Linked DNA regions of Homo sapiens: region 1 is linked to region 2. The links come from fine-mapping of genetic effects on gene expression. Tissue or cell type: unexposed skin. Region 2 holds a variant in brackets; the other region holds the start of a gene. All regions are shown on one strand. Distances are between the middles of the regions. Region 1 holds the start of LINC02562 (long intergenic non-protein coding RNA 2562). Region 2 has its middle 7.2 kb from the start of LINC02562.

The links.
Region 1: it holds the start of LINC02562, and the variant in region 2 is fine-mapped to the expression of LINC02562 in unexposed skin (GTEx, PIP above 0.99). The same link has a PIP of 0.9 or more in esophagus mucosa, lung, minor salivary gland and sun-exposed skin.

The regions. Positions count from the first base shown.
Region 1 is chr4:75,083,442-75,086,246 of GRCh38, reverse strand. It overlaps LINC02562 (long intergenic non-protein coding RNA 2562), which reads left to right and starts at 1,539. Exons shown (of 2, transcript NR_149051.1): 1 at 1,539-1,658.
Region 2 is chr4:75,076,119-75,078,923 of GRCh38, reverse strand. No RefSeq gene overlaps it. Among named protein-coding and RNA genes, the nearest start is that of LINC02562, 7.2 kb to the left of the region's middle. The variant T/A (reference allele first, on the strand shown) is at 1,547.

The sequences.
Region 1 (2,805 bases), 7.3 kb before region 2:
TTGGAAAAAACTACTTTGAAGTTCATATGGAACCAAAAAGGGCCCACATCACCAAGACAATCTTAAGCCAAAAGAACAAAACTGGAGGCATCATACTACCTGACTTCAAACTATACTACAAGTCTACAGTAACCAAAACAGCATGGTGCTGGTACCAAAACAGAGATACAGACCAATGGAACAGAACAGAGCCCTCAGAAATAATATCACACATCTACAACCATCTGATCTTTGACAAACCTGACAAAAACAAGAAATGGGGAAACGATTCCCTATTTAATAAATGGTGCTGGGAAAACTGGCTAGTCATATGTAGAAAGCTGAAACTGGATCCCTTCCTTACACCTTAGACAAAAATTAATTCAAGATGGATTAAAGACTTAAATGTTAGACCTAAAACCATAAAAATCCTAGAAGAAAACCTAGGCAATACCATTCAGGATGTAGGCATGGGCAAGGACTTCATGTCTAAAACACCAAAAGCAATGGTAACAAAAGCCAAAATTGACAAATAGGATCTAATTAAACTAAAGAGCTTCTGTACAGCAAAAGAAACTACCATCAGAATGAACAGGCAACCTACAGAATGGGAGAAAATTTTTGCAATCTACTCATCTGACAAAGGGCTAATATCCTGAATCTACAAAGAACTCAAACAAATTTGTAAGAAAAAAAAATCCCATCACAAAGTAGGCGAAGGATATAAACAGACACTTCTCAAAAGAAGACATTTATGCAGCCAACAGACACATGAAAAAATGCTCATCATCACTGGCCATCAGAGAAATGCAAATCAAAACCACAATGAGATACCATCTCACACCAGTTAGAATGGCGATTATTAAAAAGTCAGGAAACAACAGGTGCTGGAGAGGATGTGGAGAAACAGGAACACTTTTACACTGTTGGTGGGACTGTAAAGTAGTTCAACCATTGTGGAAGACAGTGTGGCAATTCCTCAAGGATCTAGAACTAGAAATACCATTTGACCCAGCCATCCCATTACTGGGTATATACCCATAATACATAATACTATTATGAAAAGCCATGTATGTAAATGGTGCATCTCTATTCTTAATTGTTTACTTAAGATTTAGGATTAATTCCTAGAAGTTAAAGTATTTTTGTGGGCATAGTTTTAAGGCTTTCATATGTATTCTTGTATGACCCTCCAAAAACTCTGGAGAATGCATTTTCTACCGTAGTAATACCCCTAACCTGAGAAGCATAAGCTATGTCTGCCAAAACATTGTTAAATTGGTTTTTATCTCTCTGATTATTGGCAAAGTTGATCCTTCCTTCCTTCCTTCCTTCCTTCCTCCCTTCCTTCCTTCCTTCCTTCCTTCCTTCTTTCCTTCCTTCCTTCTTCTTCGTCTTTTTGCAGATTCTCCATTCAACATCTGTGCCAATTATTTTATCGGGGTGTTCATCTTGTTTTTAAAATCAAGTTCTTCTTAACATAGCAATAATTTAAATACCTGTCAATATGTTGCAAATACATTTATCCAAGTAGTTGCTATTATATATATATATATTTTTTCAGTTGAGACAGGATCTCACTATGTTGCCTTGCATGGACTGGAACTCCTTGGCTCAAGAAATCTTCTTGCCTCAGCCTCCCAAATAGCTAGGACTATATGCACATGCTACTACACCTAGTAAGTTTCTTTTTAACCTTATAATATTTTAACATATAAAGTTAATTCATTTTTAATGTATATATTAATAAATTTCCTTAGGATTTTTCCCTTTGTATTTATGCTTTAAAAACTTTTCCTACAATGAAATTACATAAATATCCACCTATTTTTTCTTATAGTTCTAAAATTAAAATTTTTTTTTGTCTGTTTTATTCAACTCTCGTATGGAAAGACCAATACAGGTATCCGTCATTACCACTGACACCTTCTGAACGAAGAGTCCTATTTAGCTTCTTGTGCAGATTTCCATATGCTCTGTCATGTGACTCCACTTATCTACTCTGGCTGCCACTGAATGAGCCAGAGGTGTGCACCTATCCCAAGAGAAACAATCTTCAGGGAACCAATTTCACAAGTCACCAGCTAGGAGGCTATGAGGTGGCCTTGCATGATAGCTCTGTCCAAATGGGAATGACTGGACAAAGAAGTCTCTTTTATAACTTGTCTTGGGATTGTAAACAAAGATATAGCTGGTTAGTAGCAAAAGGATATGACGAGAAAATGCATGCAAAATTCCCACGAGACAGAGAAAACCATTAGTAAGCAGAAGATATGAGAAAGCAGAAGCTATAAAACAGAGAATATAAAGTAGCTCGCTTTCAATAGCACCAAGAGTGTAGAAATATAATGGAAAGGTGCAAGGTCATCTGCTATTGAGGATGAACAATAGAGCAACGTTAGATGTAGAATTACTTTAGATTGCAAAACCAAAGACTTGAGAGATATCAAGAATTCAATCAGATGTCACTTTGATATTTGTAAGAGTTTTTTAGTCCTATGAAATGAAAATAAAAGATAGAAATCCATCAAATTCAGAGTGCTTTATAGTTATATGGAAACACATTTACATGTCTTAAAATCCAAAGATTGAAGTCAATTGGATGGAGGCTCCAGATTCTAAGGTAACTTGAAGATTAACAATAATATGAGCAAATCTAGGGTATGTGAGTTACGTGGCTTTCTCCTTTAAATTTTGGAGCCATTGATACAGCTATAAATAGACCCTTCCCATCAGCGTAACAGACAAGGATCTAGCCCCATCCTCGACTGATATCCTCTGGTTACTGGGAAACTTCAGCAAACTAAGAAGACAATGCCCTCCTCT
Region 2 (2,805 bases):
CAAACAAAGCCTCCAAGAAACATGGGACTATATGAAAAGGCCAAATCTAGTTTGATTGGTGTACCTGAAAGTGATGGAGAGAATGGAACCAAGTTGGAAAACACTCTTCAAAATATTATCCAGGAGAACTTCCCCAACATAGCAAGGCAGGCCAACATTCAAATTCAGGAAATACAGAGAACACCACAAAGATACTCCTTGAGAAGATCAACCCCAAGACACATACTTGTCAGATTCACTAAGGTTGAAATGAAGGAAAAAGTGTTAAGGGCAGCCAGAGAGAAAGGTCGAGTTACCCACAAAGGGAAGCCCATCAGACTAACAGCAGATCTCTTGGCAGAAATCCTACAAACCATAAGAGAGTGGAGGCCAATATTCAACATTCTTAAAGAAAAGAATTTTCAACCCAGAATCTCATATCCAGCCAAACTAAGCATCATAAGTAAAGGAAAAGTAAAATCCTTTGCAGACAAGCAAATGCTGAGAGATTTTGTCACCACCAGGCCTGCCTTACAAGAGCTTCTGAAGGAAGCACTAAACATGGAAAGAAACAATAGGTCCCAGTCAATGCAAAAACATGCCAAATTGTAAAGACTATTGATGCTATGAAGAAACTGCATCAATTAATGGGCAAAATAACAAGTGAACATCATAATGACAGGTTCAAATTCACACATAATAATATTAACTTTACATGTAAATTGACTACATGCCCCAGTTAAAAGACACAGACTGACAAATTGGATGAAAAGTCAAGACTCATCAGTGCGATGCATTCAGGAGACCCATCTCATGTGCAAAGACGCACATAGGCTCAAAATAAAGGGATGGAGGAAGATCTACCAAGCAAATGGAAAGCAAAGAAAAGCAGGGGTTGCAATCCTAGTCTCTGATAAAACAGACTTTAAACCAACAAATATCAAAAGAGACAAAGAAGGACATTACATAATGATAAAGGGATCAGTTCAACAAGAAGAGCTAACTATCCTAAATATCTATGCACTCAACACAGGAGCACCCAGATTAGTAAAGCAAGTCCTTAGAGACCTACAAAGGCTCTTAGACACACACATAATAATAATGAGAGACTTTAATATTCCACTGTCAATATTAGACAGATCAAAGAGACAGAAGGTTAACAAGGATATCCAGGAATTGAACTCAGCTCTGCACCAAGCAGACCTAATAGACATCTACAGAACTCTCCACCCCAAATCAACAGAATATACATTCTTCTCAACACCACATCACACTTATTCTAAAATTGACCACATAGTTGGAAGTAAAGCACTCCTCAGCAAGTGTAAAAGAACAGAAAGAACAACAAACTGTCTCTCAGACCACAGTGCAATCAAATTAGAACTCAGGATTAAGAAACCCACTCAAAACCACACAACTACATGGAAACTGAACAACCTGCTCCTGAATGACTACTGGGTAAATAACAAAATGAAGGCAGAAGTAAAGATATTCTTTGAAACCAATGACAACAAAGACACAAAGTACCAGAATCTCTGGACACATTTAAAGCAGTGTGTAGAGGGAG[T/A]TTTATAGCACTAAATGCCTACAAGAGAAAGCAGGAAAGATCTAAAATTGACACCCTTACATCACAATTAAAATAACTGGAAGAAAGAGCAAACAAATTCAAAAGCTAACAGAAGGCAAGAAATAACTAAGATCAGAGCAGAACTGAAAGAGATAGAGACACCAAAAACCCTTCAAAAAATCAATGAATCCAGGAGCTGGTTTTTTGAAAAGATCAACACAATTGATAGACTGCTAGCAAGACTAATAAAGAAGAAAAGAGAGAAGAATCAAATAAACGCAATAATAAATGATAAAGGGGATATCACCACCGATCCCACAGAAATACAATCTACCATGAGAGAGTACTATAAACACCTCTACTCAAATAAACTAGAAAATCTAGAAGAAATGGATAAATTCCTGGACACATACACCCTCCCAAGACTAAACCAGGAAGAGGGTGAATCTCTGAATAGACCAATAACAGGCTCTGAAATTGAGGCAATAATTAATAGCCTGCCACCGAAAAAAGTCCAGGACCAGACAGATTCACAGCCGAATTCTACCAGAGGTACAAAGAGGAGCTGGTACGATTCCTTCTGAAACTATTCCAATCAATAGCAAAAGAGGGAAACCCTTCTAACTCATTTTATGAGGCCAACATCATCCTGATACCAAAGGCTGGTAGAGACACAATAAAAAAAGAGAACTTTAGACCAATATCCCTGATGAACATTGATGTGAGATTCCTCAGTAAAATACTACCAAACCGAATCCAGCAGCACATCAAAAAGCTTATCCACCATGATCAAATCAGGTTCATCCCTAGGATGCAAGGCTGGTTCGACATACACAAATCAATAAAGGTAATCCATAAACAGGACCAAAGACAAAAACCACATGATTATCTCAATAGGTGCAGAAAAGGCCTTTGACAAAATTCAACAGCCCTTCATGCTAAAAACTCTCAATAAGTTAGGTATTCATACAATATATCTCAAAATAATAAGAGCTATTCATGACAAACCCACAGCCAATTTCATACTGATTGGGCAAAATCTGGAAGCATTCCCTTTGAAAACTGGCACAAGACAAAGATGCCTTCTCTCACCACTCCTATTCAGCATAGTGTTGGAAGTTCTGGCCAGGGCAATCAGGCAAGAGAAAGAAATAAAGGATATTCAATTAGGAAATGAGGAAGTCAAATTGTCCCTGTTTGCAGATGACATGATTGTTTATTTAGAAAACCCCATTGTCTCAGCCCCGAATCTCCTTAAG